Linked DNA regions of Homo sapiens: region 1 is linked to region 2. The links come from fine-mapping of genetic effects on gene expression. A gene starts in region 2. The other region holds a variant in brackets. All regions are shown on one strand. Distances are from middle to middle. Region 1 overlaps ZDHHC18 (zDHHC palmitoyltransferase 18). Region 2 holds the start of ZDHHC18 (zDHHC palmitoyltransferase 18).

Evidence for each region. PIP is the estimated chance that this variant, and not a neighbour inherited with it, causes the effect.
Region 1: its variant is the best candidate, but not a certain one, in a credible set for the expression of ZDHHC18 in tibial nerve (GTEx, PIP 0.53).

What each region holds. Positions count from the first base shown.
Region 1 is chr1:26,846,278-26,861,447 of GRCh38, reverse strand. ZDHHC18 (zDHHC palmitoyltransferase 18) reads right to left here. Exons shown (of 8, transcript NM_032283.3): 3 at 12,691-12,840; 4 at 11,010-11,147; 5 at 10,842-10,890; 6 at 10,217-10,319; 7 at 8,583-8,695; 8 at 3,844-7,722. The coding sequence ends at 7,605. Among named protein-coding and RNA genes, the nearest start is that of SFN, 9.3 kb to the left of the region's middle. RefSeq lists silencers at 6,296-6,468, 8,041-8,100 and an enhancer at 7,715-8,216. The variant T/G (reference allele first, on the strand shown) is at 7,851.
Region 2 is chr1:26,817,450-26,832,619 of GRCh38, reverse strand. ZDHHC18 (zDHHC palmitoyltransferase 18) reads right to left here and starts at 5,932. Exons shown (of 8, transcript NM_032283.3): 1 at 5,481-5,932; 2 at 13-173. The coding sequence starts at 5,815. RefSeq lists silencers at 5,665-5,874, 5,885-6,034, 5,998-6,150.

The DNA of each region.
Region 1 (15,170 bases), 29 kb before region 2:
GAGTGTCTGAACACTCATCTTCCCTCCTGGAGGGAGGCTTAGGCCAGAACTCTGGGGACCAAAGACGAGATCCTTCTCTTTGCCACAAGGAGGAGTAGGGACATGTCTGGGCTAATGCTACAGGGTTTCCAAGGAAGTAAAGGGGATTTTAAGTTTGACGTCCCAAAGATTTTGCTCAAATCAGAGAACTGACACAGAAAACAATAGGAACCACACTAAAATACCAACTTCTAGAGGGTATCTTGAGGTAGTGAGAGTGAGTGATTTTGCTTCCCTTTGATTTTCTTTCTTCTCAATTTCCTTTTTAGAGATAGGGTCTTACTCTGATGTCCAGGCTGAAGTACAGTGGTATGATCACAGCTCACTGCAGTCTCAACCTCCTTGGCCTCAGGTGATCCTCCTGCCTCAGCTTCCTAAGAATAAGGTGCTCACCACAACGCCCAGCTAATTTTTGTATTTTTTTGTAGAGACAGGGTCTCACCATGTTGCCCAGGCTGGTCTCGAACTTCTGGGTTCAAGCAATCCTCCTGCCTTGGCTTCCCAAAGTGCTGGGATTACAGGTGTGAGTCACTACACCTGGCCCTTTTGATTTTCTTATTCTCTCCAATTTATAAATAGTGAATATAGGTCGGACGCGGTGGCTCACGCCTGTCATCTCAGCACTTTGGGAGGCTGAGGTGGGTGGATCACAAGGTCAGGAGATCGAGACCATTCTGGCTAACCCAGGAAAACCCTGTCTCTACTAAAAATACAAAAAATTAGCCGGGCATGGTGGCACATGCCTGTAGTCCCAGCTACTCGGGAGGCTGAGGCAGGAGAATCGCTTGAACCCGGGAGGCGGAGCTTGCAGTGAGCCGAGATGGCGCCACTGCACTCCAGCCTGGGTGACAGAGCAAGACTCCGTCTCAAAACAAAACAACAACAAAAAAGTGAATATGTATTGTTTGTCTATGAGATACAGAATAGACTAGTATCTTTGGAATCAGACTGCCTAAATGTAATTCTTATAGCTGTTTGTGGCCTTGGCCAAGTGATTTAAGCTCTGTGAGCCTCAGTTCCTGTAACTATAAAATGGGACTTGTGAGGATTACACGAGTTAATGGAAAGCACAGTAGAATGGATGGCAACTATTATTATTATTATTTTCTTTTTTTTGAGACGGAGTTTCGCTCTTGTCACCCAGGCTGGAGTGTAGTGGCACAATCTCAGCTCACTGCAACCTCCACCTCCTGGGTTCAAGTGATTCTCCTGCCTCAGCCTCCCGAGTAGCTGGGATTACAAGGGTGCACCACCACACCCAGCTAATTTTTGTATTTTTTTTTTTTTTAAGTAGAGATGTGGTTTCACCATGTTGGCCAGGCTGGTCTCGAACAGCTGACCTCAAGTGATCCACCTGCCTCAGCCTTCCAAAGTGCTGAAATTATAGGCATAAGCCACCATGCCCGGCCAGATGACAACTATTATTATCATGTGAAAAAATCCCGTCAACTTTATTATGATCAACATATACTCACAAAGCACTAACATAGAGTTAGGTTCTGTGAAATGAGGAAGGACCCCAAGCCAGGACTTAGCCAAAGGCCAGACCTTCCCAGCTGGGTGTCTACAGGGGAGAGGAAGCAGTTTGCCCATAGCCTTCTCTCTCCAGATGGATGAATGGCCAGATGTGCTCAGCACTGCCTCCTTCCTCTCCATCTAGGACAGGCGTGTCCAATCTTTTGGCTTCCCTGGGCCACATTGGAAGAATTGTCTTGGGCCACACATAAAATATACCAACACTACCAATAACTGATGAGCTAAAAAAAAAAAAAAATTTGCAAAAAAATCTCATAATGTTTTAAGAAAGTTTACTAATTTGTGTTGGGCTGCATTCAAAGCCATTCTGGGCCACATGCAGCCTGTGGGCCGTGGGTTGGACAAGCTTGATCTAGGATATTCCTGTGACCTCAGCAGGTCCTGGAACCTCAGGGGCCTTCATTTGTACTAGTCATCCAGCCGGGGCTTCCCCAAGTCCTGGGGAAAGCTGGAGATCCCAGGACACTGGGAACCTGGAAGGCAGGCCCAGGAACTTTGGAGCCTGAGTCCAGGGAGGGACCATTTGCTTCCCGCCACTTAAGCCAGAGGACCTGGTGGTGGTTCACGCCCTCCGCATAGCCATGAGCAAGGGCAAGGAAGCCCCTTCATTCCTACTCCTCCCCTGCTGGAGCTCAGGGGTGCATCTGGGAGCCAGGCTGCCTGATACCTCCTGCCCGCTCTGGCCTGTTGATCCTGACTCAGTTCCTGTCTCAGGTACCTCCCTTTGCCTCTGGGCCTCCATTTCCCAAGTTCAGGAGCTCAGACGGGCAGGAGGCAGCAGGCCCTGGCAGGGCATGGAGCTCCACAGTCAGCTGTCTGAGTCAGCAGGACAGGAGCTGGGGTTGCAGCTCAAAGGGGCTTTCCTCATTCTGCCTGCTACCTCCCCACCCTCCTGTACAGCATCCATTCTACCAGCAGGCTCAGGGGCTCTGGCCCCATAGTCAACCAATCCTTCTTAGCTGGTAATAATAGGCTTTGAAGGGTTGTGATGAAGAAAGCAGCAACCATTTGCTCTCTACCTCCACTGAGGACAGAGGACAGGGCTCTGATAGCAGTGGGAGGGACACCAGGTAGATTCTAGAAAGAACTTCCTAAGAAATGTTTCTGTCTTGGAATGATCAAATTAAACAGGTGGCCAGAGGAAGCTCTAGCACCTTTTCCCACTGGCTAGTTGTGAACAAGAGTCCAGTTACCTAGCCAAGAGCTTACTTTACTGGTTACCTTTGGGAAGGGATATTAAATTATTTTAATTATTTTTGTGGCTCCTTGTGGAGCAGGGCGACCCCATAGGCAGTGTGCCCAGAGTAGCTTACATTACTTTTAAGTGATTCGTAGTTCTGATTCTTTTTCTCTTGAAGGCACTGCTGTTTAGAGTATCCCACATCTAAACCAGTCCAGTCTAGAGACAGTGCAGAATTTATGGAGAGAGAATGGAATGAGGTCAGAGTGTGGGACTGCATCCCAGCTCTGTTATAAGGCCTTGGGCAGGTCCCTTCCTGCCTCTGGGCTTCAATTTCTCCATCAGTAAAACAAGGAGGCTGGCCCAGATCAACTCTAAGCCCTCTACTGGCTATGACATTCTCTAATTTTAGGGTTTCTCCAAGATCTCATCCTCCCACCGCTGTATTCATTCCTTGGGTAGTGCAGATGGCTCAGAGCTCGGGGCAGAGATCAGGTTCCGATCTGGGATTTGCTGCTTTGCCAGCTGGGTGACCTTGGGCAGCTCCTGTTTCTTCCTTGAGTCTCAGTTCCCTCATCTGTAAAAAGGCTGACATCATCCTCCTCACAGGTTAAGATGAGAAAATGGGCCCGGGACTCGGCAAGCCCTTGCTGAACGGTAGCGGTAGCTATTTTTTTAGCCCATAGTACAGTGTATGCACATGTGTGTATCTTGATGTAGTGCAGCAACTGGGGAGAGAGAAGTTTCCATGAGATCGTTACCCTGGGCTGGGCTCAGTTCATGGGTATGGCAGTCCCAAACTGGAGTTAAACCCTCTGTCTCAGCCTGCACTGGGACCTATCAGAATCCAGAGGTCAGCTAAGGCTGGGTGGTGTCTGGAATTGAGACCAAGAGTTCTGGAGGGGCAGAGTGAAAAGGATGTCAGCCACTTTTCCTGTGTCCCTCCTGGCTTCGTTGTGCTTGTAAATCTCCAGAGCAGCACTGGCCAGCTGGAAGAAAGCTGGGAGCGAGGGGGAGCCATATGTTCCACACGCCCACTGCAGGTCCCATCCCTGGGCCCCAAAGTAAAGGCGCCACCAGACAGCCAATGGTATGGCAAGAAGAGGGGAATCTTTATTTTGGTTAAAAAAAAAAAAGGTACAGGATAGCAGACAAGCAGCCCCCAGCCCTGGGCTCAGCTGATTTTCCTTGGCTCAGCTCTTTCCTTTAGTCCCCTGAAGTGTATGGGGCTGTGCACGGCTAGCTTGGTCCCTCAGTGCCTAGAGCAAAGGAGGCACGCACCCTCCCTACATCCTACCTACTCTGGTGGAGGGTTGGGGGTGGGAGGTGGACAGGCCGTGGGAACAGTATCAAGCCAGTTGTGCTTAGAACAGTCACCAAACTTGTTCAGCAGCGTCATCCACCATCAACACCCCAGACAGCTCCTGAGGAAACCTGCTGGGCTTGACTATGGCTATGCCTGATCTGAGGGGGTGGAGGGGCAGGCTCTAAGGCCAGATTCCTAGTCTTGACACCTCACAAATCCGGGAAGGGGAAGTCAGTGGAGGAGAGAGGGAGCATATCAGCGTAGAGTCACATTATTGTGCTGATGGCTGCGTTATGGCTTTCTACACTCTGGCCGGCATGGAGCGGGAATGGGGCAAAGAGGCCAGCCCCTGCCCCCTATGGGGGTCCTAGAGAGCACACAGGCCGGGCAGGCTGGGGGGCAGACCCTGTAGGCACAGATGGTGGCAGATGGGCCACAGGTTAGGCAGGTGGAGGTGCCGGGTGCCTGGCTCCCCCCAGGCCATTCCTGGAGAGGCAGAGAGCAGCGGTCCTCAGGAGGTCCTTAAGCCCCCGCACACACTGGAGATCCCCGGCAGGACAGCAAAGAAGGAGAAGAGAGAGGGTTAGCAGGCCTGGGAGGAGGGAGGCGGCCTGCAGGGGCCCCGGTGGTGGGGAGAGGTGCTGCCACAGCACCTGCCTCTGCCCGAGAGAAGGGCCAAGGCTTAGGCAGCAGGCAATGAAGCAGGAGAGAAAACGGGCGGGTGAGAGAAAGCTCAGCGGGGACAGAAAGCCAGGACATAAGAGTGTTAGTGACCGGTGGCCCCTGCATACCAGGACCCCACCAGCACAGACCCAAGCACCTCAGGGCAGGTTCGCCATCCTCTCCCCAGCCTCACCCTCCACCTCCTCTTCCAGCTGGAGAGCTGCTCTGCGAGAAGCTACTTCCTCAGTCCACAATGGGGCTGGGCTTTTAGCCTTGCCCTATATCCCGATCCTTCTGCTTAGCGGGGAGTCCCTGGAGACCCTACCACCACCAGCACACACACCGCACCACACACCAGACAGATGGACGGGCTCCATGGGGTTGGCGAGGCATGCGATGAGGATGAGATGGTGTGTGAGGGGAGCGGGCAGTGCTGGCCGACAGGGAAGAAACGGTCTTACCAGCTAACCCTCTGCAAAGAGGCCTGTTAGCTCCCCTCAGGCTGTGCAGGAGATGGCAAAATCCTGACAGGTGTCCTCCTGAGGGAGATACCAGAGAGGTGGGCCAGTGTTATGAGTTGTCTGGCTGGGCCCTGGTGCCCAGGTTGGAGGTGGTAGCCAGGGAAGCTCCGGCTCTCAAACTGGAATCTACTGTCTCAAACATTTTCTTAGCTGGGCACTCATTGGGGATCGGAGTGGAAAGGCAGTAGGGAAGAAGAATTTGGGGGTCTCCAAGCCCCTGAGGCAGGGGAAGGTGGAGGGGACAAAGAGGGGACAGGATGGCCTCTTTTCACGTGCCCATGGGGGCTCAGCCGCAGCCCTCTCTGCTCTTCCTCCAGCGGACAGAGCTCCAGCCAGGTGAGGGAAAATGTAGCCAGATCACTGGGCTGCCTGCCTTCTCACAGTCTCCCCAGGAAAGAACCAAATTTGTCTGAAAGAACAGAGGGCTCCCAGTTGGGGCCTCAGCAAAGGAAAAGCAAACAAAAACCAAACCAAAGCAAAGCAACTCTTATAAACTGAAGTTTTATTACAAGCAGGAACAAAGAATACTGGCTTAAATAAAAGGTAGGTGGGAGCCCCCTCCTCTAGCCAGCTTCTTCCTCACCTCCCAGGGCCACTGCAGTGATGGCCCAGGGCCCTGAGGCTGGGGTGAAGCTGTTTCTCCCAGAGGGGACCCTCTGTGGCTGCCATTCCCAGCTGTCTGTGACCACTAGCCTCTGGAGTGAGAAGGGCAAGATCTGGGGACTTCCTATGTCACTTTCCAAGGGCTTCAGCCCACTTGAAGGGCCAAGGAGGGGGATGGTGGAACAATATCTATTTTGATAAGAAACTACAGCTCCCAGCAGAGGAGAAACATCCTCTGAGTTTCCGGCCCAGACTCAGGCCAACCTTCACTTGCCTCTTGGCCCACCCTGCACCTTCTTCCTTTTCTCTGGATGGAGGTCCCCGTTTGGCAGAAACACCTTGTCTTCCAGCTCCTGGCACTGGGTCCCATATTCAGAGCTCAGAGGAGGGGGTGTGGCTTGTAGGATGGCAGCCGCTCCCCAGAGCCATCACCCCACCCACCACGCCCAGGCTCAGCCTGTCTGGGCAGGTCCCAGCTGGAAGCCTCACCTGGGGGCTGGTGGGTAGGGCTGGGGGTAGAGTGGCAGAGTCCCCAGACACTGGCTGTCTGAAGTCCATAGAAGAAGGAAAGATAGGAGGCTGGGCTGAGCCCCAGTGGGAGCCCAGGGTTTTCTCGTGACCAGTGCACGTGCCCCCTGTCCCCTTGGCTCAGAGTGCTTCTGACACTCAAAGGGGATGGGGCAGGGGGCAGCCCAGGGGATATGGGAGCCAGCCACATTCATACAGGGCACACATGAACACACACACACATGCACACACACTCTCACTCATTCCAGCCAGAAGGTCTCTTGGAATAAACTTATTAAAACCAACCAGCCTTCTGATAACCCTTCACCTGGCACTACACAGACAGTAATGTGGCTGACATTTTCTCCTTCCATTTAAAAAAGACTATGTAGAAAAGAGGTCTATAAAATTGTGCAAAATACCCAGCATTAATAAACCCGTTTCAAGTATTGCCAGCATGAGCATAACCCACCCATGCCGGGACCTGGCTTGGGAGAGAAGTGGAGGGGCAGGCTGGGATCCCTTAAAGAGCTCTCCATGGGCAGGGGAAGGACCAGGCTCCCACTTCCACTGTGCTGCCCAGGAACTGCACAGGAGCTGAGGCTGTGGGTGCCTGGCTGGCTGATTTACCTTTGTCTGATACAGGCTGCCCCCACCCACCACCAACCCTGCCTTCTCTACTGGAGCCCCAACTCAATCCTATTGGCCAACTCCATAAAAAAGGGGGGAAAACCCCACCAAAAATCCCACAGAATAAAGGGAAATTATCACCAAGGGAATGAAGGAGCCCACAGACCAAAGCAGCCCATGGAGGCTTCCTCTCCACAGCCAGCTATCCAGAGCTGGCCACTCCTCAGTCCTGCTTCACCCTGAGGACCCTGGCTCAGCAAGGCCCAAGCAGTTCCCCCACCTGGGAGGCCTCACGCTCAGTTCACAGCCTCACTCACACAGGGCTCGCCCGGCACAGGCAAGGACTTGGTGTGGTCCCCTGGGTAGCCTCCAGAGGCTCTGGTCTCTCCTGGCACTGATCAGCTGGGGTACCTAGGGCCCAAGGCTGTGGGAACCTGGGTTTGGGGAGCAGAGGGCACAGCCACGGAACAGTTCAGGGAAAGCCACGCAGGATGGGAAATAAATATGAAAAGACTTGAGTCTTTGGCAGTTCTGCTTCCCTTGGATGGAATAGGGAGGGTCCCGGCAGGTGAGTGCGGAGGGTCAGACAGGCCAGCAGGTGGCAAGTACTGAGCCGTGGTCAGGGGTGGCCTCCTACCATGCTGGCATCAGGCTTGGCTCTGCAGGCTGGCTCATCGCTTCTGATGGGTGAGGGCAACACGGTGTCGGACTGCACAAATCCCCTCCGGTCAATTAGGCTTCCAAAACACAAGGGAGACACATGAGGGCTCTGCCCAACACTGAGGCTCTAGGCCAGGGGTTGGACGGCAGAGTCTATCTCAGCCAAGGAAAGGCCCAGGCTGAGAAAGGCTGAGGAAAGGAGAGC[T/G]GCTGCCCATCTGGGGGCCCAAGACTCTTACCTCTGGCAGGCCTCTCTCTGCCCTCTGGCCACCTGGCTTTTGGCCACAGAATTTATTCACTATTAATTCCAACTGGCCCACCTGTCTGGCTGCCAAGAAGCCAGGCTGCAGGTGAGGGAGGAAAGCAAGGATGAATAGGTATTTGATGACTATGAAATTCCTATGTTCCCTTCCCCTCTAGGCAGGCTGGGTGACAGGGATACTGGGTGGGGTAGGTGACATGACTGTGTGGGAATGACTTGTCTTAGCAGTACCCACAGCAATGTAATCCCCGTTCTGGAACTCTGGTGCCCCCTGGTGTCAGGATGAACAGGGAGTGACCCAGCAGGGCTGAGTCCCCAGGGTTCCTACTGCCAGGAGAGGATGGAGTCGCCACCCAGTCCAGGCAGTGGGCAACCGGAAGGGCAGTGTCATTCAAACATGGCTGAAACAGTCATGGTGGCTACCCCCGGGGAGTAGAATTACATGTCATATCCAATGCTCCTCTGTTTTACGTTTTGTACTTAATTTTTTTTTTCTACAATGAGCACGTGATTAAATAACAATTCTCCATGGAATTCCGTCACATGACAAATGCCCTCCAGGGGGTAGTGGACGGAGGGCATCTAGGGTGTAGGGGGAGGTCGGCTGATATCCAGGAACACTTTGATCACTGGCCAGGCATGGCCCTGTTACCCCTCTTCCGCACCCCGCTCACTTACCTGGGAGGTAGGGGGCCACAGAGCACAGCACAGCAGTTGGTGATAATACTTTTATGGCTGTAGGGGTTGACAGAGGCCTCACCGCCCCTCTTGCTGGACCACGAGCCTTTGATCTGCAAGCAGGAAGGAGGCCTAGGTCAAGTACCTCCTTTTGCTTCACTTTTCTAGGAGGCAGGTCTAGAGGCTGGGGACAACTGGACAATTCCGAAACCAATTCTGGTTACAGAAGGCGACATGTCTTTCATGTGGGCCATTCAATGAGAATGTGGGGGACCCCTGGCAGAGATCAGGAGGCCCCAAAGAGGAGATGACAGAGCAGAGCCCAAGAGAAGCATCCAGAGGAAACGTTTCGGATGACTCCTCCCTTCTCCGGCCAGCCACTTCTGAAGGAGGGTAGCGCAGGGGCACAGGGTGAGGGCTGACCTGCCTGTGAGCCCCGGCCCTGCTACTCACTGGCTACGTTACCTGGACAGATCACCACTTCGCTGAGCCTGAGTCCTCATTTGGAAAACAGGGAAAATAATACTAATTCTCAGATGACATTGCTAGGGCATTAGATTAATTCTTGCCAGATTCTCTAGCTCTGTGAAGTCAGCTATGGAAGGCACTGGAGAGTTTAGCAATAAAGAATACCTTGACTTTAACCTAGAGTTTTCTACACTTATTTGGCCACACACTCCTTTCTCTTTAACCTCTGGTAATGTGCTGCAGAACTGGCACCCAAGAAGCTACTGCGGGAGATACTGGCTGATGGCATTTCTGTTCTCACTGATCACCAGGCACACAACGCCCTGTCATGTGTGAAGTTTTGTTTCCCTGAATGAGAGGATGAGGTCTGGGAATGTATTTTCTGTTGGAGGATGGGTTGCTGGTAAGTATCAGATGGTGGGCCCTGAAACAGATGCTCTCATTTACTTTTTAGTGTTTGGAGGATGGGGAGGAGAAGTCAGGTCTGGCCTAGGACTGGGCACATCAAACATGCTTGTTGATGGCAGTCTGCAGGGTGGCAGGCAGGGAAGGTCAATGGAGCCCACTGGCCTGTGCCCTGTCTCCCCCAGGCGTGCATATTGAGAGGGGCAGCCAGGACAGGCCAGTGCCACCTTGAGAATAGTCACGGCTTTGCTGCTGACAGGGGCAGTGTGGAAGAGGGAGCGCATACCTGTGACTGGGCACCAACCTTGGCTCTGTCCCCTCCCAGCTGTGTGACCTCTCAGACATGGGACATGTCTCTCAGTCATCGAATGGGGAAAAAACATCCCTGTCCTTTCTGCCTCAGGCTTGGCAAAAGGACCCAAAGAAATGACGGGAACTGAAAGAATTCTGTAAGCGGTCATGTGCCAGCCAAACATCATGCGTGCTGTGGTGTGAGTACTGCCTCCTGCAGGGCTGTGGAGAAAAGCAACCTGGGACCTTGGGAGCCTGCACTGAGAGAATGAAGCATGTGGAGGTGTCAGAAGCCTGCATCGGACCCACCAGGGCCAAGCTGAGATGACTGGGAGGCATCTGGCTGCTTAAAAGGCATTATCCCAGCAGTCCGTGAGTCAGGACTGTGCTTGGCTGCCCCAGGCTCCCTCAGCCCTGCCTCCTCCTGAGGGCGCTGCCCTAGAATGAGGGGTGGCTCCAGGTTTACTCACGTCTTCATTAGTAGTCAGGTTGGAGGCGACGAGGTACGTGTGAAACCCTGAGAGGCCCAGAATGGACCAGATGGAGAAGAAGCAGATCACCAACTCCAGCACGGTGAGGGCAGTTAAGGACTTCAATGGGTGGAGGGTGGGGAGCCTCCCAGCCACACCTGGCCTGTCTCACCTATCCTTCCATGGAGCTGTTTCCCCAGAGAGCTGAGAAGTTTTGGAACCTTCCTGTGGCCCAGTCCCCACTTCTTAGCAGGATCACCTCCTGGGCCCCTCGGAAGGGTCAGGACCCCACTCAAGAGCCAGACAAGGTCAGGGTGATGGACGGCAGAGAAAACTGAGGGTTCCAATCACAAAGAGCCTTGGGCACGACACGGTCCAGGGAGCTTGGCATCTTAAGGGACATACTCTTTTCCAGGCCCCTGAAGACGAGGAACCCCCGGCCCCACAATGCCCCATTTAGGATCAGCTCTTGCCTGGGTGTGAACAGAAGAGCTGGCATGTTGGATTCTGGAGGACACATGTGAGCTGTACGCTGTTCCCTTCTGATTAGAGGATGAGGCAGGGCACCCACCCAGTGAAGGGACCTCAGTTCCCACTGGAGTGTCCTCTAGCTGACAAAGGATATCTTGCTGGTGTCTCCTTCAGAGTGGAGAGGAAGTTGCTTCCCTGAGCGCCTGGGGAGAAAGAAACAGGAGAGGACAAGCTCAGAGGGACAGTGACTGCTGAAGCTTGCTGACCCTTGAGCTTGCTGGCTGACCCCTTCCACTCCCCACTGCCCTCACCCACAACTCACGCAACGTCAGGTGGGTGACCACACAGGCGAAGATGAAGGCCGTCAGGAATGAGAGGGAGAGAATAAACGCGTAGAAGAAGCGATAGTTCCGTCTCCCCACACAGTTGCCCACCCAGGGGCAGTGATGGTCAAATCGTTCTGGACAAGGGCAAGGGGCGATGGGTTAGTGTGGGCTGGCCTGCAGCCAGCACAGGCATTTGGCGGCCTCACCCATGGCTGGGGCTTTCCTACCCCGTTCACTCTCGCAGCACCAGCTGGCTCCCAGGCCTTGGACACACCTGCCTCTGGTCCTTTGTGTACCAGTTCCCACTGCCTGATACATTCTCTCGTCTCTTTACCTGGTTAACTGGAACTTCTCCTTCGCGTCTCAGCTGCAAAGCCACCTCCTTAAGAAAGTCTCTTCCAATCCCAGACTAGGGGAGGGGGCCCCTGTTATCTGCCCCATCACTTCTCTTTTGTCACACTCTGCCCATGTGTGTTTTTATGCTTATTTATAATAACTGGATTGGCCAATCAGCCCTACTTGACTGTAAGCTCCATGGGCGAGGGGGGCTGTGCTGGTCTTACACCATGCTGACTCCCCAGGATCCAGAGCAGTGCCGGCACAAAGACTCACAAAAATACTTGTCACCTGGTCTACCATCCCAACCACATGCTAACAGTCAACAACCCGTCTCCTGCTCTAGGACTAGCGGCCCAGGGAGGGGCTGAGCTGCAATGGGGTTCACAGCCAGCCAGCATCACAGGCCAGGTCAAAGGGCTGAGCTCACCTGCACACTGTCCCCGGGGGTGGAGGCACACCCAGACTGGTAAAGAAAGTCCTTGTGGGAATGTGGGTCACAAGCCCATTGCAGGCCTCATGCCAAGGCCAGTGCCCTTTGCACGGCGTGGGCGGGGCAGCTCCTTGGGGATGAATGGTGCCCACTGAGTCACCCCCTTCACTGCATGCCGTCACGGGGGGGTGTTCCCTGCTGTTCTCTTGCTTAGGGAGTACTGAGCTGGCATGATGAGCTCACTGCCCTGGGAACTATGCACAGTCACTGTGGCTCAGCTCACCTGGGCCCTCTCATGCATTATTTCCCTTACAACACCCTCTCAGGGTGCCCATCAGAACTACACAGCCTCTGGAGAGCAGGGAGAGGGGACAAAACAACCACTGCAGGCAGCTGTAGGGTCAGGAGCCATTTCCAGTGGTGACATCCTCTGCACCTCATCAGCTTAAACGCCTCTGTTGCTAGATGCTTTTCCCTCTCAACTCTGGGAATCAGATCAAAGTTTTTCAGTACAGCTGGCCCTGGGCCACTGGACAGTAACTCATTCTTTCTGGCCCAAACACATCTGGAATGTTATTGTTCCAGTCTGTTTCCTGGGAGCTTGGACCTCTTGAGGACCGGGCTGAAGCCTGGGAGAAGGGTTCAAAGCCTGTCTGTCTGCCCCACACCTCAGAGCTGGGGGAAGGAATCCACCAATCCTGAGCTGAAGCCAAAACACTCCTGGTTATGCTGAGGGCCCCTCCCCTGGGCCCTCCTGAGTCAGGGCAAATCTGGGTGAACCAGACCCCCTGCCCAGCCCTGGGTATTTCAGACCCTGCCCACGCCATCCCCATGCTTGATGCCCCCCATCCCCACGACTCAGTCTCTCTCAGGAATCCCTGCATCCCTCCCTGCTGCCTCCTACTCACCCACACAGTTGTCGCAGACACTGCAGTGTGAGGTTCGGGGTGGCCGGAACATCTTGCAGGTGAAGCAGTACTTCAGCTTCACCATCTGCCCGTTGATCAGCACCTCCCGGGTCCGAGGGGGTGGCCGGTATGTAGAACTGCCTGTGTTGTCTGAGGGAAGGAGGAGAGAAAGATGGGGAATGCCCAAGGCAGCCCAGGGCCCGGATCCCCAGCAGGGGAAAGCTACTGCTGCCTGGCCAGTCCAGGAGAAGCCTCAGGGTAACAGGTTCCCAGGAACAAACATTGGAGTAAAATGTCTGGCCTAAGGCAGGGACAAATATTAGGAACTGCCACCATGTACTGAGACTGCCTCTGTTCATACACCTGCCGGCCTTACCCACTCTAAGAAGGGCTGTCAGAGAAGGAGACTCCCAGAAAGCTTAGTGAGGGTTTTTTTTTTTTTCCTGAGGCAGAGTCTCACTCTGTCGCCCAGGCTGGAGTACAGTGGCGTGAATCTCAGCTCACTGCAACCTCCACCTCGCAGGTTCAAGCGATTCTCATGCCTCAGCCTCCCGAGTAGCTGGGATTACAGGAGTGTGCCACCACGCCCAGCTAATTTTTGTATTTTTAGTAGAGACAGAGTTTCACCACGTTGGCCAGGCTGGTCTGAACTCCTGACCTCAGGTGATCTGCCCACCTTGGCTTCCCAAACAGCCAGGATTATAGGAGTGATGCACCGCGCCCAGCCAGTGAGGTTTATTTGCATCTCATCAAGCCTAGACCTATGTCCCAGTTTACAGGAGGTTCAGGAGATGGAGGAACAAAGTGAGTAACACAATGAGGAAAAAGTCAGATCTAGAATATGAGACATTTACAAGACTGCTGGCCTGATCTCTAACAAAAGTCAATGTCATTTATAAAAAGAGAGAGGAGGTCGGGTGCAGTAGCTCACACCTGTAATCCCAGCACTTTGGGAGGCTGAGGAGTGAGGATCACTTGAGCCCAGGGGGTGAAGGCTGCAGTGAGTCAAGATCACGCCACTGCACTCCAGCCTGGGCAACAAAGCCAGAACCTGTCTTAAAAAAAAAAGAGAGAGAGAGAAAGAGAGGCAGAGAGGAGATGATTCTAAATTAAAAGCGATTTAAGAGACATAAACAAATGCAATACATCATGGATCTTATTTTGAAAAACAAAACAAAACACAGCAACAAAAGACATTTGGAGGGCAACTGTGGAAATCTGACTACAGATTAAAAACTACGAAACAGGCCGAATGCAGTGGCTCATGCCTGTAGTCCCAGCACCTTGGGAGGCCAAGATGGGAGGACTGCTTGAGCCCAGGAGTTCAAGATGAGCCTGGGCAAATAGGAAGACCCTATCTCTATAAAAAATGACAAAAATTAGCCGGGTATGACGGCGTGTGACTATAGTCCCAGCTACTAAGGAGGCTGAGGTGGGAGGATCATTTGAGCCCAGGAGTTCCAGGCTGCAGTGAGCATGAGCCAGGATCACTCCATTGCACTCTAGCCAGGGTGACAGAGCAAGACCCTGTCTCTAAAAACAAACAAAAATTAGGGAACAATTGGCCAGGTGTGGTGGCTCACATCTGTAACCCCAGCACTTTGGGGGGCCGAGGCGGGCGGATCATGAGGTCAGGAGATCGAGACCATCCTGACCAACACGGTGAAACCCCGTCTCTACTAAAAATACAAAAAATTAACCGGTTGTGGTGGCGTGTGCCTGTAGTCCCAGCTACTCGGGAGGCTGAGGCAGGAGAATCGCTTGAACCCGGGAGGCGGAGCTTGCAGTGAGCCGAGATCATGCCACTGCACTCCAGCCTGGGCGACGGTGGGAGACTCTGTCTCGAAAAAAAAAAAAATTAGGAACAATGAATTTTCTTAGGTATGATAATGGAATTGTGATTATGTAGGAGATTATCCTTAGATTTTTAAGACATATGTTGAAATATTTATAGGTAAAGTATCTATGATGTCTATAATTTACTATGAAATAGTTTGAGAAGAACAAACATATATATGCAAATAAGATGCACTATCAACTACTATTCAATCTAGATGGTGAATGTACAGGAATTAGTTGTACTATAATCCTTCCTGCTTTTTCTGTGTGTTTGAAATTTTCATAATAAGAAATTTAAGGCTGGGCATGGTGGCTCACGCCTGTAATCCCAGCACTTTGGGAGGCCGAGGCAGGCGGATCATGAGGTCAGGAGACCATCCTGATTAACACAGTGAAACCCCGTCTCTACTAAAAATACAAAAAAATCAGCCGGGCATGGTGGCGGGCGCCTGTAGTCCCAGCTACTCGGGAGGCTGAGGCAGGAGAATGGCGTCAACCCGGGAGGCAGAGCTTGCAGTGAGCCGAGATTGGGCCACTGCACTCCAGCCTGGGAGACAGAGCGAGACTCTGCCTCAAAAAAAAAAAAAAAAAAAAAAAAAAAAAAAAAATATATATATATATATATATACACACACACACAC
Region 2 (15,170 bases):
TAGAAACCTCACCGATCTGTTTCTCCAGGGCGGCTGCTTCACAGACAGTGGCCCGGGGCAGGATCCCAGGGTCGGTGAAGCTTGTCTGCAGCAGGCAGCTCATGACGAAGAAGAAGAGGATGGCAGCGATGATGGGGATGGCAAGGGTCAGCTTGCGAGCCAGGTAGGGACAGCTAGAACGAGAGATGGAGAGAGATCAGCAGACACCCCAAGGGCTCCCTGCGGCACAGGGCTACAGCACGTGGCAGGCGCTGTCATTCCAACAACCACCACCAAAATCTTGAATACAGCCTCGCTCTGAGGCAGAGGCACAGCTCCTTGATGAGTGCAGCCACTCCCCAATAAGTACCGGGAACAGACATCACTAATTGATCCTTGTGATATACTTTCCTCCAGAGCACATGGCAGATGTGTCCAATAGATCCCAGCACTCCTAACCTCTGCATCCAGAGAATCCCTCTACACACAGAGCTTCAGGCAGACACTAGTGGACTGTCACCTGAGACAAACCATCCTGCAGTGTTCATTCACTCATTCATTCACTCACTCAGTCCACAAATATTTACTGAGGTCTTCTCTGTGGCAGGCAACACCTTCAATAAGCAGCAGGAATAATGACGACGGATAAGACAAGAGTCCCTCCCCCTTGTGGCTTATGGTCTAGTGGGGAAAACAAGACATGTAAACAGGGAATTGCCACACAGGGTGATGTGTGCTCTAGTGGGGGAGGGGAACGCAGTAGCACAGTCAGGAAAGGCAACCTGAAGGAGACAATCCTAAGCTCCAACCTGAAGAATGAGTAGAGGGCTGGGGGAACTGCATGGTCCAGCCACTGTCACTGTGACCCAAGGTAGGCAGGTATCCCCAAGGCAGTGCTTTCAGACCCCCTGACCCTGGCTGCCTCAGAGAATAGCCTGTGCCTGCTGAATGGTCATGCCTCTGTCCCCCAGGGAGGCTGCCTACCACAGCCCTCTTCAAGCTCCCTCCTCCATCTTAGGGCTAGAACATTCTAGAAGTTCTGGACACTGGTGGGAGAATGGCTTCATGATAGTGAAGCTATCAGGGCTCTCTCTCTATGGCCAATCCTCTCTGTTGTCACCTCACTGTCCACCCAGAAGCCAGAGCCACTTTTGGAAATGTCAATCAGATCATGTCATTTCCCTGCTTAAAACCTCCCAATTGCTTTCCATATAGTTTGAATACAATCCAAACTCCCTACCATGGCCTTCTAGGCCAGGCATGATCTGGGCCCTACTGAGGACTTCAGCCTCATTCTACAAAACTCTCGTCTTGCTCCTGCTCCTCCCATCACAATAGCCCATGACAGTTCCTATAACAAGCCTGGCTCTCTCCTACCTCAGGGCCTTTGCACTTGCTGTTCCTTTTCTCAGATTCCTCTTCCCTCCTCAGAAGGACCTACCTTGACAACTCTGTACACAGTGAACTTCAATGCTCTTTCTTTCCTGTATAACATTTAGTATAGATTTCAGCTACTTGTCTATGTGATGGCTATTTTTCTCTCACTAAAACATAAGCTTGGCCAGGCGCAGTGGCTCACGCCTGCAATCCCAGCACTTTGGGAGGCTGAGGTGGGCGGATACCTGAGGTCAGGAGTTCGAGACCAGCCTGACCAATAAGATGAAACCCCATCTCTAATAAAAACAGAAAAATTAGCAGGGTGTGGTAGCATGTGCCTGTAATCCCAGCTACTCAGGAGGCTGAGACAGGAGAATCACTTGAACCCGGGAGGCAGAGGTTGCAGTGAGCCGAGATCGTGCCATTGCACTCCAGCCTAGGCAACAAGAGCAAAACTCTATCTCAACAACAACAACAACAACAACAACAACAAACAAACATAAAAAAACATAAGCTCCTCTGTGGGTATAGACTATGTTCTCTTGTTCAGCTTTATATTTCCAGCACACTGCACAGCACCTGGCACCAAGGACGTACCCGGTAAATAACTGCTGCCAGGGGACAGAAAAATAGCTACCATCTTTTGAAGGCTTACTATGTGCCAGACACTGCCCTAATTAATAAACTACTGTTAGCAACATCCAAAGTACAGATAGTTACTGTGCTATGTACAGATAGTTACTGTACTATGTAGATAGTTACTGTACTATCTACAGATAGTTACTGTACTACTGTACCTGGATGGGCCAGGTACCAGGCTAAGCAGTTCCTGTGTACTTTCTCATCAAATCCTCACTGGGACCCTGTGAAGTTATGCTCCCCACTTTACAGATGAAGAAACTAGAGCTCAGAGAGTTTAAGTAATCTGCCCAAGGTCACATGGCTCAGGAGTGCTAAAGTGGGACCCAAGCCAGGTCTGACTTTGAGGTTCATACTTTTAACCATCACCCCATAGCCAGAGTAGCACCTGATCAGGTAAGGAGATGACGGGGCCCTGGGAGGCCTGAGATCAACCAAGCTTCCAGGAGTGGCACAGTAGGCACACACCTGTGGGCACCTGCATGCTGCTTCTGAAGTCTCCGTCATCAGATGCTCTGGCCTTCAGAGAAGCCCTTCCCCTGAGGAGCAGACTGCCAAGGCCAAGGGCTCCCAGTGGGTCACACTCTGCTCCATACATCTCAATGGTTTCTGGGTCTGACCCTCAAACAGAACCAGTGGGCGCTCAGTGTCACCCACATGGCAATGAATCCAGTTCATATGCAATCAGACTTGTGTGGGGGGACAGAGAAGACTTGAAATCTAAGACTTGTAGAGCCTGCAGGAACCACCAAGTCCTAGCCTCCTGATTTGCCAGAGGCTAACAGCTCTCCCAGGCCCACAGCTAGGTTCAAGGTCATCTAGCCAGCCAATGACAGAACTAGGGTTTCCAGCCTCCCAGCAAATACACTGTCAATTAATTCAAATACACTGTCAATTCATTCATTCAATAAGTATTGAGCACCTACTGCATACCAGGTGCGAGTTCTAGGCACTAAGGGTGCAACAGAGGAGAATGTCCTGCTCTCATGGGCAAAGACCAGAAACTAACAAGTATACCATAATATGTCAGGTGGTGGCAAATGCTTCAGAGAGCGATAAATGAGGGGAGAAGAGAGGTGCAGGAGGGGAGTGGTTTGCTATGCTGTGCGGATGGACAGGGGAGGCCTAATGTGAGAGAGTGAGCCATGAGGCCACCTGCAGGAAGGGGATTCCAAGCACTGGCCCAGAGGTAGGAGTGTGCACGGAGGATGACATGCCTGGAGGGAAGACGGGGACAGAAGACAGCAGGGGACAGAGGCCAGGGAGGATTCAGGCCTGAGTTAGAATCAAAAGGGCACTCTGGCTGTTGTGTGGGGGCGAGAAGTAAGGCAGAAGTTGGGAGCCCTGCTGGAGGCCTGTGCAACAATCCACCAAGCCAAACAAAGAAGCAAAGCCATTCATAGCAGGAAAGGCTTAGAGAGCACCTTACCTTTTCCCAGAGCAATGGGGAGCATCCAGTCCAGACCCAGGTGAGCTCTCGGCCCAAACCCAAACTCTTCTGCCAATCTACCAGCCCCCAATGAGGACAAGCGGGGACAAACTGCAACATGGTTCACGAGCTCTCCCCAAACCCAGAAGTCCTTGCTTTCTCCCTCGCTGGGGACAAAACAGTCACCAGTGAAGATACCCGGTCAACCCAGAGAAGGTCCTGCTTCTAGTTCAGAAGTTAGGCCAGATATCACACTGCAGGGTCATGTGGGTCAACCACGGCAAGTACTGCTTCCTCCTGCCTCGGCTGCAGCCCTGGGTGTGGGGACTGAGAGGGCAGCCCAGGGGATACTAGAAAAGGCATTTCCAAAACACTCATGTGGCCAGCCCAGGGAAGTGGATCTGAAACTCAGCCCAGAGCTGAGCTCTGGGCCCCCCAGAGCTTCTGCTTGTAAATCATCCCTGAACTTTTTATCCACCCTACTCAAAAAAAAGGGCAGAGTGTGTGGTTAAAGGGTAAAGGGAGAAGCTAATTTATAGGAAGTCTTCACCTTGCTTCAAGGGGAAACCCAAAGTTGCAGATACATGATCTGGCAGCTAGAAAGGGTACCTGGGGGCGGGTGTCTCTATGATAGCCTTACCATGGCCACATGCCCTTGGGAAGTGTTTTTTGATAAAGACAACACAAGTACTAATAGCAGCCAACATAGTGTGCTTGTTACTGGGCTAAAAGCTTGCATGTGTGACCTCATGCCACCCTCAGGACAACCTTACGGGGTGGGTACTATTATAAATCCCATTTTACTGATGAGGAAACTGGGGCACTGAGGGGGTGAAGTGACTGCCCTGAGGTCACGCAATTAGTGGGTGGTGGAGCTGGGATTTGAACCAGGTCTGTTAGAGTTCTTAACTACACTGTATAATTAAGAGGAACAACCACAAAGGATGGGGAGTTGGGAGGGGACAGCAGGGCTTATGAAGCAAGGGTGGGTGGGTGGGCGTGTGAGTGTGTGTGCAAGGAATCACAGTGCAGGTGGCTCAGAGGTGGGTGGAAAACTTCTAATACAAATATATGACCCTCCATCCATAAAATGGAGATTATGTGTGGGCCAATCCTGGGTCACCGGGGGATATGAAGAGGACAAAAACCTAGGGGGGCAAATATGACCTGTCACACGAAAGCACTCCGAAGTCTTTCCTGAAAAACAACAAGGCACCGCAGCTGTTGCTGATGTGGAACAGGCCAGAGGGACGTTCCAGAATGTTGAGCAGGGAAAGAAAGCCAGGTGGTCAGCAGGGGGGCCAGGGGCCTGGGAGCCGGCTGGGTGGAGGCGGGCGGGATCTGAGGGAAGGACAGGAAGCTCTGGAGAACCTAAGGAAGGTTCTGGAGAAGGAAAGGGGGCCCGAGAGGCCCAAAGATTTTGAGAAAAGATGCCTTGGGGCCTAGGGTGTGCGTGGCTGAGGGGAAGCAAAAGCGGGGTTGGTGTCTGAGACTAGAGAAAAGGAGGGGACCCTGGAGGGACCCGGAGAGGGCAGCGAGGATGACTAGGATGTTTATGGTGGGTGTGCACAGCCAAAGGACACACAAGATCTAGAAGTGGTCAGGAAGGGATACAAGGGTCAGAAAGAACTTGGGGGGTTGGCAAGAGATGGTCCAGGGATGGGTGAGCAGGAGGGGCCTGTTCAAGAAGCCCTGGGGCAGGTTCTGAGAGGGCAGCGAGGATGGGGGCCGTGGAGGGGCATGGAGGCTGGTGTTCCTGGCAGTGGCAGGCAGACAGGTGCCAGGGTGGGGTCAGGGAGAATGGAGGGGCTGGGAGGGTGGAGGGCACCAGCGCGGATGGGGTACCCAAATGGACCAAGGAGGATGGGGCATCTGGCGGGGATGGGGGTGCGCAGGGGCCAGGGGGGCAGACAAGAGGCCCGAGGAGGATCCCAAAGGGGCGGGGAGGATGAGGACCAGGGAGGCGAAGGGGAAGGCACGGAGTGCCCAGCAGGGATTGGGAAGGTGGGGTGCGCGGCAGGGGGCTGGGAGGGGGCGCCGAGGCAGCGGAACTCACTCAAAGACGAAGAAGAGGCCGGTGGTGGTGAGGATGAGCAGCAGCGTGAGCGCGAAGACGCCGCCGTGGCCGGCCAGCATGAGGCGGCCGCCGCAGTAGAAGCGATTGCGACCCGGGAACACCTCCCACTTGCGCCGTGGGCGGCGGCCGAGGCTCCCGCTCCCGCTGCCGCTGCCGCTGCCGCTGCTGCTCCAGCGCGGCGGGGCGGGGGCGGCGGGCGGCGCGGGCCCGGGGCCCGGAGTCGGGGACGCGGCGGGGCCGGGACGGCGCGCCCCCGGGGAGGCGGGCAGCGGGGCGGCCCCGGGGCTGATCTGCTGGTACTCGCAGTCCTTCATGCAGCCAGCCGCGGGCCTCGGCTCCGCGCCCCGCGGGCCGGCCGGGCCACTCCGGGACCGGGCCGAGCAGCGGAGGTGGCAGCGGCGGCGCGCGCGGCGCTCGCTCGCTCACTCACTGGGGCGGCCCCGCCATCGCTCCGCCCCCGGCCCGCCGCCACCGCCCGCCGCGGCCTCCCGCCGCAGCGCCCCCTCCGCCTGGGCCCGGGATGGCGCTTGGCCGGAGGCCCAGCTCTGACCCGCGGCGGGGCCCCGCAGGTCCCCGGCCCTCCCAGTCTCCCTTTTCCCTTCTGCACAAAGAGGGGGCCAGCAGACGCGCACTCGAGGGCTCTTTCTGTTCTGCAAGCAAGCCGTTTGTTGGGCGTCCACTGTGTACCAGGCACGGTGCCAAACGCCGAGATTCAGGTGGTGGACTTCGTGATCTACTTCTGGCAGTCTGTAATTCCCCAGGCTTCGCCCATCTCTGAGGGTCGAACTGACAGGCATTTGCAGAGGCAGGCAGGCGCGGGGAGGTGGGGCACACGATTTGCTTTGAAAGCCAGGACCTCTTCTACCTTGAAGTCCAGAGTGCCCACTGGAGGTGTGTGGCACACCCTCTGGCCTCGTTCACCAAGTTCTGTGTCCTGGGCCCAGGCCCAGATTTTCCTAGGTAGCACATAATGTAGAGGGGTCATGCCTGAGGGCCCCAGTGTTTTTTCAGGAATTCTGGGAGTATTCATTTTCTACTGCTGTGTAACAAGTTACCACAAATTTAAGGCTTAAAACAAACATTATCGGCCGGGCGCGGTGTCTCACGCCTGTAATCCCAGCACTTTGGGAGGCCGAGGTGGGTGGATCACAAGGTCGAGAGAGACCATCCTGGCCAATATGGTGAAACCCCGTCTCTACTAAAAATAAAAAATTAGCTGGGCATGGTGGCACGGCATCTATAGTCCCAGCTACTCGGGAGGCTGAGGCAGGAGAATTGCTTGAACCCAGGAGGTGGAGGTTGCAGTGAGCCGAGATTGTGCCATTGCACCCGGCCTGGTGACAGAGCAAGACTCCGTCTCAAAAAAAACAAAAAACAAACGTTATCTAACAGGTTCCAGGTCAGGAGCCAGAGAACAGCTTAGCTGGGTCCTCTGCTTAGTCTCACAAGGCTGCAATCAGGCTGCATTCTCATCTGGAGACTCAGCCAGGGAAGAATCCACTTGCAAGCCCATTTGGGTTATTGGCAGAATTAACTTCCTTGCGACTGTTTAACTGAAGAGGGCCTGGGATTTTTGCTGGGTGACTGTATAACTGAGGAGGGCCTGGGATTTTTGCTGGGTGTCTGCTGGAGGCCTCTCTCAGGATCCAAAAGCCACCTGCAGTTCCTAGAGATTATCACATTTCCTTGCCATGCAGGTTTCTCCTACATAGCCACTTAGTTTCTTGAAACTGACAATGAGGGTCTCTAGCTCCAGACTATGATGATAGAGTTTTATATAACTTACTATATATGTGACAGAGTGGCATCCCATCATCATTGCCATCTCCTATGGTTAAAAGCAAAGCACAGGAGCCATCTGCACTCAAGAAAAGGGAATCACACAAGGCGTAAATACCAGGAGGCAGGAATCATTGGGGGTCAGCTTAGGGTATGTCTGTCACACTGTGGTTACTGTAAAACCTAAGGAAAAGTGCAAGGAAAAAAAGAACTGGAGACTAGGAGAAAGTAAAAAAGGAAGTAAAAATATACAATGGGGAGGAGTAGGAAGCCGACAACAGTGACCTTAAGGATCAATAATTGATATATATGCCAAAGGCTGCTCAGCCGTGCCTTTGGTGCCAAAGGCTCTCAATATGATGAGCCCCATCTTGAGCAAACCACATGGTGAGCTTCCTCCCTTTTTGCTCCTTGGCTGTGGAACAAAGTCACAAAACTAGACATACTGGTTCCAGTACAGATTCCTGTTGTCCCACCTTAACTGGGTCCTCTTGCAACCTGAAACCTTTTCTTTTTTCTCGTCACTTTACAGAAACCAAAGCAATCCTACTGGATTTTCAGTTTACCTCCTCTCTATCTCATAATTTCTCTTTATTTGCATCTGTCCTTTCTTCTTTTTTAGAAGATGTGGGCCTCCTTCTGTCCATGGCCAACCCTCCACTCATATCCTTATTTTATTTTATTTTTTATTTTTTTGAGATGGAGTTTCGCTCTTGTCACCCAGGCTGGAGTGCAATGGCATGACCTCGGCTCACTGCAACCTCTGCCTCCTGGGTTCAAGTGATTCTCCTGCCTCAGCCTCCCAAGTAGCTGGGATTACAGGCATGTGCCATCATGCCCGGCTAATTTTTGTATTTTTAATAGAGACGGGGTTTCACCATGTTGGCCAGGTTGGTCTCGAACTCCTGACCTCAGATGATCCGCCTGCCTCGGCCTCCCAAAGGGTTGAGATTACAGGTGTGAGCCACTGCACCTGGCCTCTTTTTTTTTTTTTTTTAAGTAAGGCTGATGGAACTCCATTTTATTTATTTATTTAAGCCCAATAGAACTCCAAACTCATGTCCTATCTCTCTTCCTGTTCATTAATACCGCAAACACATGCTCAATTCTACATCAATTAAAAAGCAAGGCTGGGCGCAGTGCTCACATCTATAATGTCAGCATTTTGGGAGGCCAAGGTGGGAGGATTGCTTGAACCCAGGAGTTCAAGACCAGCCTCAGCAACATTGCGAGATGCCACCTCTACAAAAATAATTAAAAATTAGCTGGACATGGTGGCATGCACCTGTAGTTCCAGCTACTTGGAAGGCTGTGGTGGGAGGTTTGCCTGAGTCCAGGAAGTCAAGGCTGCAGTGAGCTGTGATTACGCCACTGCACTCCAGCCTGGTGACAGAGCAAGACCCTGTCTAAAAAAAAAAAAAAAAAAAAAAGCCAGGCGTGGTGGCTCACATCCCAGCACTTTGGGAAGCCGAGGCGGGTGGATCACAAGGTCAGAAGTTCGAGAACAGCCTGGCCAACATGGTGAAACCTCATCTCTACTAAAAAAATACAAAAAATTAGCTGGGCATGGTGGCATGCGCCTGTAATCCCAGCTACTCGGGAGGCTGAGGCAGGAGAATTGCTTGAACCTGGGAGGCGGAGGTTGCAGTGACCCGAGATCATGCCATTGCACTCCAGCCTAGGCGACAGAGCAAGACTTCGTCTCGAGAAAAAAAGAAAAGAAAACCCTAAAAAACCCAATGGAGCTTCCCATGGTTGGCTACCTTCTCACCTTAGTTCAGATTTATCTTTCTCATTATCATTAGGATCATATTAAAGAGTTGCTACCAGGCAGGGCATGGTGGCACATGCCTGCCATCCCAGCACTTTGGGAAGCTGAGGCAGGCAGCTGGCTTCAGCTCAGGAGTTCGAGATCAGCCTGGGCATCATGGCAAAATCCCTCATCCCCTATGATTTCCTAACTTTTTACAAGTTGGCCCCTGTCTACATCACTCCCCTAAAACTTATCGTAAATGTCACCAATGAGCCATTTAATGTAGTATAAACCTCTTGTTCTCACCAATACCTATAGTTCCCGGCTTCTTTAACAGACAGATGTGGCCATGCGAATGAATTCTAGCTAGTGGAAGTGAAAGGTACTACTCCCAGGATGGCCCACAAATCTCCCAGGTGCTGATCCTTGCCCTCCTTCCTATCTGCTAGCAGAGTAGAGGAGATTCTGAGAACCTAGAAGAGGGTGGAGCCACAAGATGGAAGGAACTTGGGTCCCTGCATAATTGTGCAGAGCAGACCTTTCCTCTACTATGACTAACATATTAAACACTGAAGTGAGCAAGAAATACAGTTTTGTTATATAAGCCAATGAGTTTGAGAGGTTGTTTACTACAGCAATTAACTGATCCTTATTAATACAGAAAGTTGTATCAGGAGTGGGATGTCGATATAATAAAAACAAAAATATATGGCACTGAATTAATGGCCAGGCAGTGGATTACTGCCTGATCTTTAATTCAGTGCCATATACTAGATTAAGTAAACCAGGCTGGATGGCTGGAGATCTCTATTATGCTGTAGCAAAATATTTGGTAAAATTGTCATCTTCAATAATGTGGAAGGTAAATGCTATGCCCACTCACCCTGCAACTATAAGGGAAGGAGTTGGAAAGAATCAGAGTAGGATATGGTTGGCCACTGTTGGTGTCTGAATCAGTCAGACTCTAGTCAGGAGACAGAAACCATCCCAGTTGTTTGAACAGAAATAATTTAATATAAAGAATTGGCCAGGCACAGTGGTTCACGCTTGTAATCCCAACATTTTTGGGAGGCCAAGGCGGGAGGATCACAAGGTCAGGAGTTCGAGACCAGCCTGGCCAATGTAGTGAAACCCTGTCTCTACTAAAAATACAAAAATTAGCCAGGCATGGTGGCACACACCTCTAGTCTCAGCTACTCGGGAGGCTGAGGCAGGAGAATTGCCTGAACCCTGGAGGCAGAGGTTGTGGTGAGCTGAGATCGCGCCACTGCACTCCAGCCTGGGCAGCAGAGTGAGACTCTGTCTCAAAAAAAAAAAAAAAGAATTATTTGCAGCCTGGACAACATGGTGAAATCCTATCTCTATTAAAAAAAATACAAAAAAAAAAAATTAGCTGAACATGGTGGTGTGTGCCTGTGGTCCCAGTTACTCAGGAGGCTGAGGCAGAGGGACGGCTTGAGCCCAGCGGGGTGGACGTTGCAGTGAGCCATGATCACACCACTGCACTTCTAGCCTTGGCGACAGAGTGAGACCTTGTCTCAAAAAAAAAAAAAAAAAGAAAAGAAAAAAAGAAAAGAAATACTTGAACTGAGTTCCTTGAGCAAAATAAAATTATAAATAAATAATTGTCAATTTATATAAAAAGTAAGGGCTGGGCACAGTGGCTCACGCCTGTAATCCCACCACTTTGGAAGGCCAAGGTGGGAGTATTGCTTGAATCCAGGGGTTCAAGACCAGCCTGGGCAACATAGGGATACTATGTCCCTACAAAAAAATTTAAAAATTATCCAGACCTGGGCTGGGTGCAGTGGCTCACACCTGTAATCCCAGCACTTTGGGAGGCCGAGACAGGCGGATCACGAGGTCAGGAAATCAAGACCATCCTGGCTAACATAGTGAAACCCCGTCTCTACTAAAAATACAAAAAAATAGTTGGGCGTGGTGGTGGGCACCTGTAGTCCCAGCTACTCGGGAGGCTGAGGCAGGAGAATGGCGTGAACCCAGGAGGCGGAGCTTGCAGTGAGCCAAGATTGTGCCACTGCACTCCAGCCTGGGCGACAGAGCAAGACTCCATCTCAAAAAAAAAAAAAAATTATCCAGGCCTGGTGGTGTGCATCTGTAGTCCCAGCTGTTCAGGAGGCTGATGTGGGAAGATCACTTGAGCCCAGGATAACTGAAAGGTTACAGTATCGCAGAGGCAGTAACAGCAGGAAGCAGCTATGAACTCCTTGGCTGAGGGAACAAAGAAAATAGGTTGGAATTATTACAAATTAGAAGCTTAGAGCAGAAACTAAGGAAGAGGAAGAGTGCCAACCAGATTATGGTTTTTGTTTATTTTTTAAAGAGGTGGGGTCTTGCTATGTTGCCCAACCTAGAGGGCGGTGCCTATTTATAGGCATGACCTTAGCACACTACCAGCTTTGAACTCCTGGGCTCAAGCTATCCTTCCCCCTCAGCTTCCTGAGTGGCTGGTTCTATAGGTGCACACCACCGCATACAGCAATGCTGGTGTCTTTGAGGTGAGGCATGATAAACTTGGTTCTGCAATCAGAAATACCTGCAAACTAAAATCGGCTCTACTGCAGAAAAGTACTACTTCTGTCAGGGATGAAGGAGCACTGTTAGGTTCACTCATAGGAACTGAAAGTAATAGAAGGAGCCAATCTCTTCTTCCCTTCCAGCTCTGCGGTCTCCCTCTAGTGCCCCCTATTAGCAGAGCCAAACATAGATCTAGCTGGTAAAGCAGAAGTGTGTCTTGCAGAGCCCCAGCCTCAGTAACTCAAAGCTGAGTATAGACAGGCTGGTTTGGAGCTCAGGTAATAATATTGGGCACAGTCCACCTCTTTGGCTACTCAGTATCCACATGCACTTGCCTCTACATTATTATTATTATTATTTTTTGAGACTGAGTCTTGACGTATCTCCCAGGCTGGAGTGCAATGGCGCGATCTTGGCTCACTGCAACCTCTGCCTCCTGGGCTCAATTGATTCTCCTGCCTCAGCCTCCCAAGCAGCTGGTGCCCACCACCAAGCCCAGCTAATTTTTGTATTTTTAGTAGAGATGGGGTTTCACCATGTTGGCCAGGCTGGTCTTGAACTCCTAACCTCATGATCCGCCCACCTTGGCCTCCCACAGTACTGGGACTACGGGAGTGAGCCACCGCTCTTGGCCTGCCTCTACATTTTTGAACCTCCATATAACAAGGCAACTCCAGTCTTCCACCTAACAAAGTGCAACTATACAACTATCTTTTGTATAAGTACATTCTCACCCACTCCACCAAAATGAACAAATGTGGAATCTGTTTTTTGGAGACAGAGTCTTGCTCTGTCACTCAGGCTTGGAGTGTAGTGGCATGATCTCGGCTCACTGCAACCACTACATCCCAGGTTGAAGCGATTCTCCTGCCTCAGCCTCCCAAAAAGCTGGGACTACAAGCACACGCCACCATGCCCGGCTGACTTTTTTTTTTTTTTTAAGACAGTCTTGCTCTGTCACCCAGGCTGGAGTGCAGTGGCCCAATCTTGACTCACTGCAACCTCCACCTCCCGGGTTCAAGCGATTCTTCTGCCTCAGCCTCCTGAGTAGCTGGGACTACAGGCACGTGCCACCACACCCAGCTAATTTTTGTATTATTAGTAGAGACGGGGTTTCTCCATGTTGGTCACGTTGGTCTCAAACTCCTGACCTCAAGATCTGCCCGCCTCAGCCTCCAAGTGCTGGGATTACAGGCATGAGCCACCAACCGGCCTTTTTTTTTTTTTTTTTGGGATGAGTCTCGCTCTGTTGCCCAGGCTGGAGTGCAGTGGCGCGATCTTGGCTCACTGCAACTTCCACCTCCTGGGCTCAAGCAATTCTCTTCCCTCAGCCTCCCGAGCAGCTGGGATTACAGGCGTCCACCACCACACCCAGCTAATTTTTGTATTTTTAGTAGAGACGGGGTTTCAGCATGTTGGTCAGGCTGGTCTGGAACTCCTGACCTCAACTGATCTGCCCACCTCAGCCTCCCAAAGTGCTAGGATTACAGGCGTGAGCCACCTCGCCCAGCCAATTTTTTGTATATTTAGTAGAGATGGGGTTTTGCCATGTTGCCCAGGCTGGTCATGAACTCCTGAGCTCAGGCAATCTGCCCGCCTCAGCCTCCCAAAGTGCTAGGACTACAGGCATGAGCCACTGCGCCTCGCCAGAAATGCGGACTCTCAACAGTCATTCTATCTATCTCTGGGATATGTTTTTTTTTTTTTTTCCAAGGCAGAGGAATTTTTCTTAGTGCAGAACAAAATGAAAAGTCTCCCATGTCTACTTCTTTCTACACAGACACGGCAACCATCCGATTTCTCAATCTTTTCCCCACCTTTCCCGCCTTTCTATTCCACAAAGCCGCCATTGTCATCCTGGCCCGTTCTCAATGAGCTGTTGGGCACACCTCCCAGACGGGGTGGTGGCCGGGCAGAGGGGCTCCTCACTTCCCAGTAGGGGCGGCCGGGCAGAGGCGCCCCTCACCTCCCGGACGGGGCGGCTGGCCCGGCGGGGGGCTGACCCCCCAACCTCCCTCCCGGACGGGGCGGCTGGCCGGGCAGGGGGCCGACCCCCCCACCTCCCTCCCGGACGGGGCGGCTGGCCGGGCGGGGGGCCGACCCCCCCACCTCCCTCCCGGACGGGGCGGCTGGCCGGGCGGGGGGCCGACACCCCCACCTCCCTCCCGGACGGGGCGGCTGGCCGGGCGGGGGGCCGACACCCCCACCTCCCTCCCGGACGGGGCGGCTGGCCGGGCGGGGGGCCGACACCCCCACCTCCCTCCCGGACGGGGCGGCTGGCCGGGCGGGGGGCCGACCCCCCCACCTCCCTCCCGGACGGGGCGGCTGGCCGGGCGGGGGGCCGACACCCCCACCTCCCTCCCGGACGGGGCGGCTGGCCGGGCGGGGGGCCGACACCCCCACCTCCCTCCCTGATGGGGCGGCTGGCCGGGCAGAGGGGCTCCTCACTTCCCAGTAGGGGCGGCCGGGCAGAGTCGCCCCTCACCTCCCAGATGGGGCGGCTGGCCGGGCGGAGGGCTGACCCCCCCACCTCCCTCCCGGACAGGGCGGCTGGCCGGGCGGGGGGCTGATCCCCCAACCTCCCTCCCGGACGGGGCGGCTGGCCGGGCAGAGGGGCTCCTCACTTCCCAGTAGGGGCAGCTGGGCAGAGGCGCCCCTCACCTCCCAGACGGGGCGGCTGGCCGGGCGGAGGGCTGACCCCCCAACCTCCCTCCCGGACGGGGCGGCTGGCCAGGCGGGGGGCTGACCCCCCCACCTCCCTCCCGGACGGGGCGGCTGGCCGGGTGGGGGGGCTGACCCCCCCATCTCCCTCCCGGACGGGGTGGCTGGCCGGGCTGAGGGGCTCCTCACTTCCCAGTAGGGGTGGCCGGGCAGAGGCGCCCCTCACCTCCCGGACGGGGCGGCTGGCCGGGCGGGGGGCTGACCCCCCCACCTCCCTCCCGGACGGCACGGCTGGCCAGGCGGGGGGCTGACCCCCCCACCTCCCTCCCGGATGGGGCGGCTGGCCGGGCGGGGGGCTGACCCCCCCCCACCTCCCTCCCGGACGGGGTGGCTGCCGGGCGGAGACGCTCCTCATTTCCCAGATGGGGTGGCTGCCGGGCGGAGAGGCTCCTCACTTCTCAGACGGGGCAGCTGCCGGGCGGAGGGGCTCCTCACTTCTCAGACGGGGTGGTTGCCAGGCAGAGGGTCTCCTCACTTCTCAGACGGGGCGGCCGGGCAGAGACGCTCCTCACCTCCCAGACGGGGTCTCCGCCGGGCAGAGGCGCTCCTCACATCCCAGATGGGGCGGCGGGGCAGAGGCGCTCCCCACATCTCAGACGATGGGCGGCCGGGCAGAGACGCTCCTCACTTCCTAGATGTGATGGCGGCTGGGAAGAGGCGCTCCTCACTTCCTAGATGGGATGGCGGCCGGGCGGAGACGCTCCTCACTTTACAGACTGGGCAGCCAGGCAGAGGGGCTCCTCACATCCCAGACGATGGGCGGCCAGGCAGAGACACTCCTCACTTCCCAGACGGGGTGGCGGCCGGGCAGAGGCTGCAATCTCGGCACTTTGGGAGGCCAAGGCAGGCGGCTGCTCCTTGCCCTCGGGCCCCGCGGG